Linked DNA regions of Homo sapiens: region 1 is linked to region 2. Evidence: fine-mapped expression QTL. A gene starts in region 2. The other region holds a variant in brackets. All regions are shown on one strand. Distances are from middle to middle.

Region 1 (8,340 bases), 120 kb after region 2:
TCAACAAGAAGACATTTTGCCTAAAATTCAGGCTGTCAAAATCATGTGGATATATTTTAAAAGATCCAGCTTACTTCTGTTTCTGTCCATGAAAGATTAACTACCACAAGAATTGCCCTCTAACAGCAGGTGATTAGAGAACTGGACAAAAATCTAGGAAACAGCTGTTTTCAGACTTCAGGTAACAGTAGAAGACTGTAATTCTTAACTGAAAGGAAACAGATGAAGTGAGCCCTGGGATTGCACTGTTTGCAGTATGAGGAGAAGGACCCAAACATAGTCTAGTGGTGTGCATGAGTTGATGAGACAGAAGAGAAAAGTTCATTGGCGGAGAAGTGGCTAGAATATATAGGAAATACCAGAGAGAAGGGAGCTACAGAGATAGAAGAGAGCAAGAGCAGGCAAGTGCCAGTCTAGAGATTTCTAGTAGGGTCTCCTCAAATCTTTGACTGAATACTGATTGAGTAGCCATGGTACACAATACCATGAGGCTGGAGAAAGAAAGTGATAGGGCAGTTCTCAGAGCTCACATAGGGCTGGGAATAGTTTGTGTTTCCATCAGCCAGCATAGAGACATAGAACCTTGAACAGAAACATCAGAAGGGTAATGCCATAGTAGTGGGACCAAATTAGTCTGAGGCTAGTGCTGCATTGGACTTCTTCTAACAAAAATTGAAAGCAAACATTGAAAGGATCAAATTGATTTAAAATAATTTATTTGTGTGCTAGAACAAAGTCCAGGATCCTTTAAGATAATACAGTAAAATCCAGCACCAAGAATGTAAAATTCACAATGGCCAGTATCTAGTCAGAATTTTTCATGTGTATTGGGGATGAGAGTAGTGTGGAGGGGCAAAAGAGGGCTTACCAAGAGGGCATCAGGAAACCTTTGGGAGTGTTGGGTATATTCTAAAAGTGTATTGACAGTTACATGTGTATATACATGTGTCAACACTTATGTATGTAGTTTAAACATATTCACTTTATTATATGCTAGTTATACATCAATAAAGCTGTTAAGAATGATCAGGTATGCAAAGAAGCAAGGAAATATGATCCACAACAAAAAGAAGAAATGACAGGTACAATTTAATTAGCAGACAAACATGTTAAAACATGTTATACATATGCTCAAGAATGTAAAGGAAAATGTGAAAATGGGGAGAAAAAATATATTAAAAAAAACAAAATGGAACTTCTACAGATTAAAAATACAATATCAGAAATAAAATAACTATATGGGAGTAACAGCTGATTATACATTACCAAATAAAAGATCAGTGAAGTTAAAGACATAGGAATAGAAACTACCGAAAATGAATTACACAGAGAAAACAAAGTCTGGTAAAAATTTATCAGCATGTCAGTGTCCTGTGGTTCAATATCAGATAGTTAGACATGTGTAATTAAAGTTCCCTAGAAACAGCAGGGGAGGAAATCACAACAATTATTTGCAGAAACTGAAATTATTAATCCATCAATATAGGAAATTCAACAAACCCAAGGCAGAATGAAAAAAAAAGATCATACCAAAGCACATCATAATCATATTGCCAGAAATCAATGGTAAAGAGAAAATCTTAAAAGTAGCCATAGAAAAAGTCATTATGTACAGTGGAATAAAGATAAGAATTACAACAGACTCCTCATCAGAAATAATACAAACTATAAGATAGTGGAGTGGTATTTTAAGAGTACCAATACTAAAAGAAAAACTGTCAACCTAGATTTCTATACGTAGTGAAAATATCTTTTAAATTGAAGGCAAAACAGCCAGTATAAAAATGGGCAAGAGACTTCAATAGACATTTCTGCAAAGATATACAAATGGCCAATAAGCATATGAAAAGATGATAAACATCACTAGTCATTAGGGAAATGCAAATCAAAATTACAAGGAGATATCACTTCACACCTATTAGGAAAGCTATTACTTAAAAAAAAAAAACAACTGACTAACACAGGTTGGACATTGGTATATAAGTATCTGTTTGAGTCTCTGCTTTCGGTTCTTTGGGGTATATATCCAGAAGTGGAATTGTTCGATCACAAGGTAATTCTAAATTTAACTTTTTGATATATATCTATATAGATTTTGATACATATCTTCTAATCTAGGAAGATATTTGTTATAAAGAATTGGCTGACACAATTATGGAAACTGGCGAGTCCAGATTTGCGGCATGGGCTGACAAACTGGAGGCACAGGAGAGCCAGTACAGTTCCAGTCCAAAGACCAGCAGCCTGGAGACCCAGGAAAGCTGATGGTGCAGATGAAGTCTGAAGGCTGGCAGGCGGAGACCCAGGAAAGCTGGCAGTGCAGATGAAGTCCAAAGGCAGTCTGTTGAATTCCTACTAGGTTAGAGAGGTCAGTTTTTTTATTCTGATCAGGGCTTCAACTGATTGGATGAGGTATATTCACATTATGGAGGGCAATCTGTATACTCAGAGTTCACCAGTTTAAAAATTAATCTTATCCAAAAATATCCTCCAAATTGACACATAAAATTAACTATTACATACCTACAACCTATGTGTCCATCACAGGTAAATGTCAACAAAATATGGCATATACATATAATGCAATATTATTAAGCTTTAAAACATAATGAAATTCTGGTACATACTACAACATGGATGAACCTTGAAAACATTATGTTAAGTGAAATAAGCCAGACACAAAAGAACAAATATGATTCATCTTATGTAAGGTACCTAGAATAAGCAATTTCATAGACACAGAAAATAGAACAGTGGTTACCAGGGGCTGAGGAAGAAGAGAAAGGAGTTACTGTTTAATAGGGACAGAGTTTCAGTTTAGAACAATGAAAAATTTCAGGAAATGACCAGTGATAATGGTTGCACTTAATACCACATGATTGTATACTTAAATGGTAAGTCTTAACATTTATATTTTACCACAAAAATAAAGAATAAAATAATTTTTCAGACAAACAAGAGAACTGAGTGCCTGCAGAGCTGTAACATATTAGATGTTAAAGGTAATGTCTTCAAGCAGAGGGAAAATGATACCACCTGGAAATTTGGATCTAAATAAAATAATGAAAAATGTTAGAGATGATACATATTCAAATACAAGACTTTTTAAATAATTTGAAGTCTCTTTAAATAAAAATGCCTATTTAAACAAAGATAATAAAATAGGTTGTGAGGTTTATAAAATATTTAAAAGCAAAATATAAGACATCACAGAATGGGGGAGAACGGAAGGATGCTGTCATAAGGCACTTTGACTATTCATAAAGTAGTGACTTTTATTGGAAGTAGACTGCACATTTTATACATTAGAGCAAACTTTTTCTATAAAGATCCAAATAGTAAATATTTTAGATGTTGCAGGTATAGTAAGCAGAATTCTAAAATATTTTCCAATCCTCCAAGGTTTTCCCCTCCCCCACCTTTCCTAGTATGCATGCCTTTCATAATTTCCAGGCTGAATATGATTCATTATTTAATATGGCAGAGTTAACTTTAAGATAGAGAAATTATTCTGGGTGGTAGAGAAATTATCCTGGGGAACTGGAGGTAACACACAAGCCCTTTAAAGACAGAATTTCTCTGGCTGGTTGTAGGGGAGGACATTAGATGTCAAAGCATAAGAGGGTTTAAATGTACCATTGCTGGATTACAGAGGGAGAGGCCAACATGGGAAGAAACTGAGAGCAACCTTGACTGATAGCCAGCAAGGAATACAAGTCTCAGTCCTAGAGCCACAAGGAACTGAATGCTGCCAAAAGTGAGAATGAAGTTTGGAGTGGATTTTTCTGCAAAGCCCCAGATGACAACTCAGCCTGGCTAACACCCTGATTTCAGCTTTGTGATAATTTGACCAGAGAGCCCAGAGAACCTAGTGAGCTATTAAATAATTGTAATTAATTTTAAGCTGCTAAGTCTGTGGTAATTTGTCCTGCAGCATCAGAAAACTCATATAGCAGGCCATGTGCAGTCTCTGGTGCAGATTTTTGCTCTTTTTTTCTACTTTTCTTGGATAATAGTTAAACATTTACAAACCTTTATTAACTTGTGGGCCATAAAACAAAAACAAAAATCAGGCCACAAGATGAGCTGTCATTTGCTGATTCCTGCCCTAGAGTATCCACTTTAAAAAAAAAAAAAAAAATGGCCGGGCGCGGTGGCTCACGCCTGTAATTCCAGCACTTTGGGAGGTCAAGGTGGGCAGATCACAAGGTCAGGAGATTGAGACCATCCTGGCTAACACAGTGAAACGCCATCTCTACTAAAAATACAAAAAAGTAGCCGGGCGTGGTGGCGGGCGCCTGTAGTCCCAGCTACTCGGGAGGCTGAGCCAGGAGAATGGCGTGAACCCGGGAGGCGGAGCTTGCAGTGAGCCAACATCGTGCCACTGCACCCCAGCCTGGGCGACAGAGCGAGACTCC[G/A]TCTCAAAAAGAAAAAAAAAAAAAAGGTAACACTTTTAAGCCAATAAAGGAGATAAAATGGAACCATTAGAAAAAATTTAGTTAACCCAAAAGAAGGCAAGAATAGAGGAAGAAAATATGACAATAAGAAAGCTAATATACTAAATGTATTAATAAATGGCCTAAATGCTCCAATTAAAAGGCAAAGATTATCAGAATGGTTAAAACAAGACCCAATTTCATGATAGCTGCAACAGACCTACTTTAAATATAAAGGCCTAGATAGGTTAATTAAAATATTCAAGAAGATATATCATGAAAATACAAATCCGAAGAATGTTGCAGTTGTCATATTAATATCAGACAAACTAAACTTCAGAACAAGGACTATTACTAGAGATTTTATAATCATAAATAGATCAGTTCATCAAAGGACATAAGAATCTTAAAGATGTATGCACATGCTAACAGAGCTTCAAATACCTGGAATAAAGACCAATACAACTGCAAGGTGAAGGACAAATCTCTAATTATAGTTGGACATGATAGAATGTGTAGTCAGATAATCAGCAATGCTGTCGAAGATGTAAACAATAACAGACCAACTTGATCCAATTAACATTTATAAAATAGAACACACCATTTAAAAACAGCAGAAGTGCACACGGAACATCACAAAAGTAATCCTTACTCTAGAATATGAAAAGAAGTCTCAGTACATTTAAGGGGACTCAAATGCATAGAGTATAACTACAGTGGAATTAAATTAGACATCATAAACAGAAATATATCTGGAAAAATTGTCAAATACTTGGAAATTATTAGCATACTTCTCAATAATTCATTGGCCAAAGAAGAGAGCTCATGAGGAACATTTAAAAATATTTTGAACTAAATAAAAGGGAAAATACACTGTATAAACATTTATTGGGTATAGCTACAGCAGTGCTTAATGGGAAGCCATTAGCAAATGGAAGTCTCATACATTGCTATGGGAATGCAAAATGGTACAACCCTTTTGGAAAGCGGGTTAGCGATTTCTTACAAAGTTAAACATATTTAACATACTATCTAGCAATCACACTTACAGGTATTTACCCAATATAAATGAAAGCATATACCCATACAACGAATTCAGTGTAAATATTTATGAGAGCTTTATGCTTATTAGCCTAAACTGGGAACCAGCCTAAATGTCTATCAATAGATAAATGGATAAACAAATTGTGATATATCCATAAAATGTAATTTAAAAGGAACAGGTTACTGATACAACATGGATGAATTTCAAAAACAGTGAAAGTTTAGTGGTTGCTAGGGGCCAGGTAGAGATAGACTATAAAGAGGCGTGAGGAAATATTTTGTTGTCGTCCTGGTGGTACATGATTATATATACTTGTCTAAACTCATCATATTGTACATTTAAAATTTGTGCCATTTATTATAAATAAATATGGTTAAAATACCATTTTCTATGTGGGAGGAAAAGATTCAGATGAATAATTATTAGAACTAATAAATAGAATCTATATGTATTTTATATATATGTAAAATCTTTTAACATATCTATGATAGCCATTCATAATATATAAAATTAAAAAATCATATTCACAATAGCAAACCCAAATCATAAAATATCTAGAATTAACTTTTATCAAGAAATATAGTGGTCCTATCTAGAGAAAATTATAAAACATTTTTGAAGGATATAAACAAATTTTAATAAATGAAAGATATTTTAAAAAATAGAAACAATATAAGGATGCAATATCAAAATCCTAATTTGGGGATGTAGGAGGGGGAACAAGAGAGAAATTTTCAGAATATCATCTGGACATGTTACTAGAACAAATTTACCTTACATATAAAAATATGTGGCCAGGCGTGGTGGCTCACTCCTAGCACTTTGGGAGGCTGAGGCGGGCAGATCACTTGAGGCCAGGGGTTTGAGACCAGACTGGCCAACGTGGTGAAAACCCATCTCTACTGTTAATAAAAATACAAAAATTAGTCGCATGTGGTGGTGCACATACCTGTAGTCCCAGCTACTCAGGAAGCTGAGGCACGAGAATCACTTGAACCTGGGAGGCAGAGGTTGCAATGAGCTGAGATTGTGCCACTGTACTCCAGCCTGGGAGACAGAGTGAGATGCTGTCTCAAAAAATAAAATAATAAAAATATAGTTACGTGCCAAATAAATGACACTGCAGTCAATGACAAACCACATATATATGATGGTAGTCCCATGAGATTATGATGCCATGTTTTTGCTATACCCTTTCTATCTTTTGATATGTTTAGATACACAAATGCTTACAATTATGTTACAGTTGCCTACAGTTTTCAGTACAGTAACATGCTGTACAGGTTTGTAGCCTAAGACAATAGGCTATGCCAAGTGGCCTAGGTGTGTAGCAGGCTATGCTATCTGGTTCTGTGTAAGTGTACTCTGTGATATTCACGTGATAGCAGAATTGCCCAACATCGTATTTCTAAGAGTGTAATCTGATGAAGTGACACATGACTAAACTTTATTATGGGAAATACTAAACAATATACATGAGTAGAGAGAATAGTATAATTTTCTCCCATATTTCCGTCACATCTCATCCATTTTATCTTTTACTTTCAGCCTACCCTCTGAATTATTTTCATGACAACTTGAAATAGTGTATCATTCACCTGTAAACATTTCAGCATGTATTTTTAAAGCTAAGAAGAAAGTAACTACAATGCCATTATTATTTTGGAAAAGTTAACTAGAATTCTTTATTGCTGTCCAAATGCCTTATCAATATTTATGTTTCTCATTTGTTTTTCTATTGGCTTTTTTGAATCAGGGTGTAAATATGGTCTATATATTGCAATTGGTAAATATATTTCTGAAGTCTAATTTTATTTTATTTTTTATTTATTGTCTTTTTTTGAGACGGAGTCTCACCTTGTCTTACCCAGAAGTCTTACCCAGGCTGAAGGGCAGTGCGGCAATCTCGGCTCACTGCAACGTCTGCCTCCTGGGTTCAAGTGATTCTCCTGCCTCAGCCTCCTGAGTAGCTGGGACTATAGGCACCTGCCACCATGCCCAGCTAATTTTTGTGTTTTTAGTAGAGACAGGATTTAGCCATGTTGGCCAGGCTGGTCTCGAACTCCTGACCTCAGGCTATCCCCCCCACCTCGGCCTCCCAAAGTGCTGGGATTACAGGTGTGTGCCACCGCACCCAGCTGAAGTCTAATTTTAATCGCCCTCTTTTCTTTGTAACTTAAAACAAAACAAAACAAAACTAGGTCATTTGTAGAATTCCTCGCTGTCTGATTTTTGTATCTTACATCCCCATGGTGTACTTAAATTCCTTTGTTCCTATAATTCCTGTAAATTATTAATTAGATGTAGAGGATTATGAGATCTAGTTTTTTTGGGGCGGGGACATTCACCATGGGTTGTGCTGTATATATCCATCATGAAGTGCATGTCTCTTTTTTATTGTAGTAGTAATTTATCGTCTAGATTTGTTATTTCGTTAGGGATTGCAAAAATATTACAGTCTAAGTATACCATTCCTTATTTATTTATTTATTTGTTGGAATACCTCTATAAAGAGAAACTTTCCCCCTGCATCACCACTTCTGTTTGTTATTTACTGATCCTCAGCTCATATTGGAAAGATAGATGAAATTATAAACTGTGCCATATCTCTGTCTAGCACCTGCCAGAGATAACCAACAGAGTTGAGGTTTTTGTTTAGTTTTGTTTTTGTTTTTTGTTTATTTTTTGAGACGGAGTCTCGCTCTGTCACCCAGGATGGAGTGCACTGGCGCCATCTCAGCTCACTGCAACCCCTACCTCCTGGGCTCAAGTGATTCTTGTGCCTTAGCCTCCCGAGTAGCTGAGATTACAGACATGTGCCACCACGCCTAGCTAATTTTTGTATGTTTAGTAGAGATG
Region 2 (8,340 bases):
ATCCTTGTATATCTTGAGCAACTTTAATGTCACAGGAAAATAATTGTACTGGGATTGCTGGATTAAAGGGGTGTGTGTGTGTGTGTGTGTGTGTGTGTGTGTGTTTACATATAAACATTTTTTTTAAGAGGTAGGGTCTCCTTATGTTGCCCAGGCTGGAATGCAGTGGCTATTCAAAGGCACGGTTATAGTGCCTTGAACTCCTAGCCTCAAGTGATCTTCTTGCCTCAGCCTCCTGAGCAGCTGGGACTATAGGTGTGCTTGATATATTTTATTTTTATTTTATTTTTTTTAGATGGAGTATTGCTCTGTTGCCCAGGCTGGAGTGCAGTGGCAGGATCTCGGCCCACTGCAACCTCCGCCTCCCAGGTTCAAGCGATTCTCCTGCCTCAGCCTCCCGAGTAGCTGGGATTACAGCTGCCTGCCACCACACCTGACTAATTTTTGTATTTTTTAGCACAGACGGGGTTTTGCCATGTTGGCCGGGCTGGTCTCGAACCCCTGACCTCAGGTGATCCGCCCACCTCAGCCTCCCAAAGTGCTGAGATTACAGGCGTGAACCACCACGCCCGGCCCACCTGATATCTTTTAAATTTGTACATAATAGAATTATCTTTTAAAATAATTTTCACTGTCTACTCCCATTTTTGATATTACCAATTTTCCTGCCACTCAAGATTAGGACATTGACAGTGGGAGCTTTGTTTATGGTGGCTTATCCCCACGGATTTAGCGCTGGAGAGAAAACGTAAAGCTAGGAGAAAAGAACATTTTGAAAGCCACAGAATAGGCTCTTCAGCGGCTAGAACACGGTTCCAGGCTAGGGCAATATGGCGTCCTGTACACCGGATTGCATCATCTTTCTTTGCCAAGGATCATCTGGAGCTCAAATCAAATCTAAATGTGTCCACCTCTAAAATGGGGATAATCTTCATGTTTCTTTTCCTTTTACAGATATAAATGCAATTTCATTGTCTTGACCGTTAGGAATTCTCTGAAGGTCTGTTACTACGTAAATTGTGTGAACTCCGAACAGCAGAGTTCAAACTTGATCAGAACAAAAAAGGCTAGAGAGTGGCAACTCTCCTTTCCGTCATTTTAATGGCTTTTGTATGACCAAATGTTTCCTTGCCAGTCAGTGGGGAAGAAGCAGCGAGCTTGTCTCTTAATTGCTTTAGAGTTCTGTTTGTCTATTTAGCGTTTCTTTTTGAAGTCTGAAGATTTATGGAACAATAAACGTCATTTAATGCTGCGTGCTATTTTGGATTCCTCACTGGTTTTAGAATTTGGGTAAAACTACTTAGCTGAAAGTTTAACAAATTTGAAATTACAAGTATTGTAGAATAGTTCATCTCAGTGACATAAAATTACGGCAGCAGCAAAGTGTGTTACTTTGGTTTTTTTTTTTTAATAGTAAGATGTAGACATTTTAGTATAACAAATGTTTTCAAGTTGTTTGGGAAATAAATAAGCTAGGAAGCAAGGTTTAAATAAGAATGGTTTGGTTTGGTGCTGAATGATGTTGTTAGTACACCGCAATTCAAGTGTTGGCTATGCATTTGGGCCAATTTAGGGAAGTCCAAAACAACGCACATTCGCTCAGTAGTGTGAGAGATTAATTGTAGGCAGGTCCCATCTTTTTTACAGTATTCAAACGTTCAACCTTAAGACCCCACCAGGGCGTCTCATTCCACCGGGAACTAGAGAAGCTTGACTTGTGTGATCACCTCCTGATGAATGGACTGGGGCGGAACACAGATCCGGAGGTGGGGGCTTCTCTTCACCAAGCGCAAAGCCTACCTTCCAGAAGGCTGGCTGCACAAGCGGCCGCCCTAAATGCGGTCAAAGCGGGCAAATTCGCCGTGGGTGCCTTCCTTCCCTACCTCCGGCCCACTCTGGTTGCTCCTTCCCAGGTGCTCCAAGCTCTCCAGAGTTTCTGGTGGTTTAAAGTTTCCGCTTCACGCCCAGACTGCTCTAAGGGCAAACACGACCCCTTTCCTCTTCTAGGACCCCTTCCGTGAAGTCTGTTCCAACCCTGAGCCTCTCCACCTTCGAGATTGGCCGCAGATGCCCCGACGGGATGGCCTGGGGAGCCGAAAGCTGTCCCCAGCCCCGGACAGCTACTGCCCACGCCGCGCAGGCCAGCCTCACACAGTAGCGAATCTCCTTCACGCGACTTCCTCGCAGGCCTGTGAACCCGCAGGGGAGGCGGAGGTCGGTTCAAACCCTGCGAGAGCCCCTGCCCAGCGCGGAGTCCTGCACACGGTGGAAAGTCCTTACGCATTAGCGGGCAGGATTAAACGACTTCACACCACGAGGTGCAAGACTGGGCTTCGGGGCCTTCCTCGGTGTTGCTATTTTAAAAGAAGCTGCTCAGTAACCCAGAAGAAGATGACGGGGGACGGTGGTGTAGACCCGGCTGGAGAGGAGTCCAGGGCCTGGGAGGCGCCCCCTCTGACTGAGGGGCTGGGGACCCTGAAGCTTGGCGTCCAGGCCCCGCCAGCGCTGCACCCGGCATTGTCCCGCCTGGGGCAGGCGTCCGGTCCCTCGGCAGTGCGGGCCAGCACGTACGTAGTAGCTGCTGAATAAATAAATGCCTATGCAACAGGGAACGTCCCGGCCCACCCCGGCCGGGCCAGGGCCTAGGAAGGGCGGGCGTCCGGCGCCGCCGTGGGTCCCTCCGGCGTGGCCGCCCACACCTCCTGGCCACGGCGGGGCTGCGGTGGGGGGACATCCTGGGGCGGGCGGCTGGACGGAAGGGACTAGAGTCGGGGCGCGTCCACGGCCAACCGCCCCGAACCAAGCAGGGGAGGCCAGGGACCAGGAGCTTCCGGGGCCCCGCGGCTGGAGCGCCCGGACGCGAAGGGGCGGCGGGTGACGGGGCGCGGTGCGGGCGGCTACAGGGCCGGACGGGAGTTCCTCCGCTTTCCGCCGCGCGGCTCGCGGTCTCAGCCGAGGTCATCGAGGGCCAGGAGCCCTGGCGGAGGCCCCGCCGTCCCGGACCCACCGACGCACTCCCAGGGCTTGGCGCTTTCCCACCACCCCGGACCGCCCTTGGGGTGCCGGAGGGGCTCGGGGCGCGGCGTGGGGAGCCTTTGTGCCCTCTCCGCTTGTTGAGGTTTTTTCTCCGGAGGAGAGCTCCCCGCCCGCCACCCCTTTCCTCTCGAAAGTTTTGTGGTTTCCCTAGAAGACGAAAGAGGTTGAGAAGGTTGCGGAGACTTTTGCAATCTTCCCCGTCCAGAAACTCTAAAACCTCTCGGCGTTTGGCCCAGGGGAGCTATCTGGGGTCAAGGGGAGGGAGCTGGCCGCACATTCCTTCGCCCGCCTTCCTCCCACCTGGAGCCGCGGCCCCGCGGGGCAGTGCGTCCGAGCTGGTGCGGCGACGCCGGCAGCGGCGGGGTTAAGCTCAGGAATGCGGCGCGAGGAATGCGCATGCAGATGAGGCGGGCGGGCGCATGCTAATCGCATGCAAATGAGGGGCCCGCCGCTGCCGCGGCAGCGCCGCAGCTTCCCGGATCCGAGCCCAGACGGCGGCGGCTCCGGCAGCCTGGGCGCCGCGACCCTCGGCGGCCAGAGGGGGACGGGGCGGAGGAGGAGGAAGAGGCGGAGGCAGCGGCGGCGAGGGGGAGGAGGGTTCGCTCGCCGGCTCCGACGCAGACATGGTGGACTGATCCGCAGCGGGGCCGCGAACAGCGTTTCCTGAGGCACCTCCCGCGCGTGGTTCCGCCGCGCCCCGCGCCCTGCGCCCCTCAGCCCCTCGCCGGCGCCCGCGTCGCGGGTTGGCAGCCTAGCCCGGCAGCCGCGTTCCCGCCGCGTCCCGCGCCCGGTACCTATGGAGGCGCCGCTCGCCGGCGAGGCCGCCGACCATGCCTAGGAGGGCCGGGAGCGGTCAGCTGCCGCTGCCCCGGGGCTGGGAGGAGGCCAGGGACTACGACGGCAAGGTCTTCTACATTGACCACAACACCAGGAGGACCAGCTGGATCGACCCCCGGGACAGGTGGGCGCCGGCCGCGGGGGCGCGGGCCCGTTCGGACACGGCGGCTGTTGTCCCGGAGACCCGGCCGCGCGGGGGGCTGGGGCGGCGCCGGCCCGCGGTGCCCCGAGGGGTCCCGGGAGGGATGTGGGGCTGGCTGCTCCGGCGGGGCCGAGGAGCCGCCCGTACCCGGGCTCCTCCGCCCACCGGCTTCCCGACGCCCCTCCGGGGACCCGGCCCCGAGGCAAGGCTGGAGTCGCTGCCCCGGGCCGACGCCGCGCGCCAGGCTAACGGACCCGAGGGGCCACCTGAGCCCTGTTAGGAACTTCCCTAGGCTTCGAGGTGCCCACGTGGAGGCTGCAGGACACCTTCGGCCTCTGGGCGGCGGGGGTGGGCTAGGGCCTCACTGCCAGTTGGGGAACGAGCCCTCCGGGCCACCTGTGGCATCCCTCAGGCCGTCCTTGGCGCGGGAGCCTGGGCTGCGAGCTCTTGGCGGGGGCGCCCAGACTGGCCGGAGGTCCCGAGCTGGGAAGGGGCTCCCGCCCCCCGCCGGGCCCTGCTAGTGGGTGTGACTGACTTTGCCCCTCAGAGTTTAAAAACGCGCGTTTGGGGGTTTCGCTGTCTGTCGTTAGTCTTCACCTGAAAACTTGAACCGACTCCCAGATCGGGAACAGGCATATTGTGTTTGGAAGGGAGATGTAGTGAAATTAACGTTGGGTATTGAGGCACTCTGATTTGAGCTTAGCCTGGTTTCTTTGTTTTTTGTTTTTTAAATTGGTTCAGGAACTGAAGGTTCACAAATGTTTCTGTGTCCCATATTTTTTTTACCCTTAAAATTTCTTAGAATTATTGTAAGAATAATAGGAGGTATTCCTAATTATAAATTTGTAAATTATCCATTAAGGAGATATTCCTAATTGTAAATTTAAATAACGTGCCACCAGGGATAACTTCGACATTTGGACTTTTGTCATTTCTGAAAATTATAACTTTATTGAATGTGGCCCTTTGGGCTTTATATACTTTTTAGGTGCTTCTCCTATTTAACATTTTCCCTTTTCTCAATTTGAAGCTGAAATACCTAACTACTTTATAATCTCAGTTACTTTTGCCCTAAAAATGTTGTTTTTGAAAGCTACTAAAAGGCAATTACAAGAAAGTTATAAATAACATTATAAATTTATGGAACAATCCTTGTTCAATTATCCGTGAAGCTACGGGCCTAGGTTTCCCTCCTGAAATGAGAAAAGGCACCTGTGCTGAGGTTCGGTCTTGCCGCAGCCTGGCTGCCTGTTGCTGGCCTGATGAAAATTGTGACAGGCATCACACCTTCCCAGTGTCTCCAGACGTGCTAGTTGTTGTCATAAACTTCACGCTCCAAGCCAGTTATTTGACTTATGCTATTGCACTTTGAAACTACTTAACAGATAGTAAATGTCAGTGCTGATGGTGTGCACCCAACTGCGGCTTTTAAGGCACCTGTATAAATATTTGACTTTTACAGTTGTGTGGTAATTCTTTCTGCTTTCTGATACTTGGAGTTTCAGGTAATTGAAATAACAATAAATTCTTGAAATATTTAGGCATTCTAGGTTCTCTTCTTCGGTTTACATGCTTTACTATATTATCTCAGTTGTGTTTACCGGAAAGGATTACAAGAATATGTAATGTCTGGGTAAAGTAAATAGAAAGTGGAGTGAAATTATATGACTTGGCTATCCATATCACTACTTTTTTCACAAGTCAAGCATGTCCTTTATTTTAAACTCTTAATGGATTAGTAATTATTATGAACTATTTTCAGGAAACTGGATAAACAATTCATTGGATAGGGACAAATAGTTTTGACTAAGATAGCTTTTTATTTTTCCAATTTTCCTTGCAGCTGTTAGGTCTTAAATATTCAGAGACATAAATTTGACGACTTACAAATATTTCTGGATCTCAGAGTTTTAAAAGATACTCTGTTGAGATCAGAGTCACCATTATATACTCAGTTTAAATTTGATTATATTTTCTTTTAGGGCAATTAAGTGACTAAATCTTACTAAATAGAGTAAGAGCTGATGGGAACGTATATTTGGAGTAACTATTAACTCCTGTCAGTTTTGTTACACACTTACCAAACATATGGAAAGAGAGATGTTACACAGGCCAATAGGAGTGTGTGGATTCTTCTGCAGGATCAACTTACAAATTCTGAAAGAAAAACAACTTGATATACTATGGGTCTGCAGTACTTTTGAACTGTTTAAGCCATTTAATTAGAATGGTCACGATGATTTACCTTGCATATTTTTTATGTTATTCTGTTAAGGAAAAGAATTTTGTGTTTTTGATAGTCTATCAGAATTTGTTGAATATTTCTGATTATACAGATAATTATGCCGATTTAGTAGGGGAGGCTAGGGCATTTTATAAGAACATAATTTCATTCAACAGGTAGTCATGCCAGAATGCTGAAGCATTATTCTAAAATGCTTTTAAGCTTTTGGAGGTGAATGACGTCATTCAAACTTTGCTGGGATGTGATCAAAGCTTTTATTGCTCCACTTCTTACTTTTATTGACTAAGTTTACGTGAGTTTCTGAATCCCTCTAAACCTCCATTTTTCAGCTCTAAAATGAGGATAATATCATCTTCTTCATAGGGGTGTTTGTGGGCTCACCATTAGGGCCCAGCCTAATTGTATTAGTGTAGTGTTGACATTCCAGTTTAGGAACTGAGTGACCCTGGAAATAGTAGAAATACTAGCATGGACAGTATTTACTCAGTGTGTATTGTGTGCTAGGCACTCTGCTAAGCTCTTTAACTGTGATCTCATTTCATTCTCCCGTTGGTCCTGTGAGGTAGGTACTACTGTCATCTTCCAGTTACAGATGAGGAAATTGAGTCACAGAGAAGTAGCCCTTGTTAAGTGTGGAGCTAGGATTTAAAGCCAGACAGCTTGACTCTACAGCATGTGTCCTTAATCATTCCTTTAAATTGTCTCGACGCTTGCGCATGTTCAGGGGTCTTTGGGTGGAGTGCACAGAGGGGCAGAACCTTTTTGCCCAGTGTTTATTTTTCAGGCTGAGTGACTAGGCTAATCCTGGGGAAATCTCCCTGTTTGTGATTAATTCCTTGTCCCCCTACCCTGCCTGCATGGGCCCACTCCCCGAGTGTTATTTTGTAGGTTTACCCCCTCTTCTTTTGCTCACCATGGACCCTTTTGAACATACCAGTTGGTGTTTATGGTAGGCCATAGGTCTTGGCCAAATGGCCTGGTGCTTTTTTTTTTTTTTTTTTAATTACATTCAACAAAGGAGAAAAAGGTGGGATGGATTGGCTTCATTGCCTTTTGGAGGAGTAGGGAGCTTAAGTGGGCAGGCCTCAGAGATAGGGTGGGTTGGCTTTACCAACTCCCAGTAGAATTTTGCTCATTTTCTATCCTTGGATTGAATGTTACCCAGAGATACAATGACTTTGTCTAGTTGAACTGAAAGATTTCACACCATGCAAAGTGACTTTCCATTAAAACCCACTGATAGACACTAATCTGTGGCTTATGGCAAGGGTCAGATGTTGAGCAACCTGTACCTTCTAACTGAATAAAAATAATCTTGGGGGGTGGGGAGGGTGAAAAGGGAGGAAGGGGGTGCCAGCTGGGTATATCATTGATGTCACAGTTAACTTTTGGCTCTCCACACCCGTTTGAGGCATATGACTAGGATCAGAGGAACTCTGTATTGTCTTTTTTTTTTTTTTTTTTTGAGACGGTGTTTTCGTTCTGTTGCCCAAGTTGGAGAGCAATGACGTGATCTCGGCTTACTGCGGCTCCCGGGTTCAAGCGATTCTCCTGTCTCAGCCTCCCGAGTAGCTGGGATTCCAGGCGCCTGCCACCACGCCCGGCTAATTTTTTGTATTTTTAGTAGAAATGGGGTTTCACCATGTTGGCCAGGCTGGTCTCGAACTCCTGACCTCAGGTGATCTGTCTGCCTCGGCCTCCCAAAGTGCTGGGATTACAGGCATGAACCACCGCACCTGGACTTGTGTTTCTCTTTTTTTTTTTTTTTTTTGAGACGGAGTCTTGCTGTGTCGCCAGACTGGAGTGCAGTGGTGCCATCTCGCCTCACTGCAACCTCCGCCGCCTGGGTTCAAGTGATTCTCATGCCTCAGCCTCATGAGTAGCTGGGATTACAGGCACCACCATACCCAGATAATTTTTTTGTATTTTTGGTAGAGATGGGGTTTCACCATGTTGGCCAGGATGATCTCCATCTCCTGACCTTGTGATGCGCCCACCTTGGCCTCCCAAAGTGCTGGGATTACAGGCATGAGCCACCACGCCCGGCCTGGCCTTGTCTTTCTTTCAAAGTCTAAGTAAT

Direction of the effects. Alleles are on the strand shown, and positions count from the first base shown. SD is a standard deviation of normalised expression in the study named.
As copies of G replace A in region 1, the expression in adrenal gland of the gene that starts at base 3,632 in region 2 goes down (moderate effect, 0.44 SD a copy in GTEx).

Evidence for each region. PIP is the estimated chance that this variant, and not a neighbour inherited with it, causes the effect.
Region 1: its variant is the best candidate, but not a certain one, in a credible set for the expression of WWC2 in adrenal gland (GTEx, PIP 0.77).

The regions. Positions count from the first base shown.
Region 1 is chr4:183,216,411-183,224,750 of GRCh38, forward strand. All of the region lies in intron 4 of WWC2 (WW and C2 domain containing 2), which reads left to right. Among named protein-coding and RNA genes, the nearest start is that of WWC2-AS1, 20 kb to the right of the region's middle. The variant G/A (reference allele first, on the strand shown) is at 4,419.
Region 2 is chr4:183,095,626-183,103,965 of GRCh38, forward strand. WWC2 (WW and C2 domain containing 2) reads left to right here and starts at 3,632. Exons shown (of 23, transcript NM_024949.6): 1 at 3,632-3,997. The coding sequence starts at 3,867. WWC2-AS2 (WWC2 antisense RNA 2) reads right to left here and starts at 3,574. Exons shown (of 1, transcript NR_024008.1): 1 at 1,396-3,574. RefSeq lists enhancers at 751-1,045, 2,391-2,685 and a silencer at 2,391-2,685.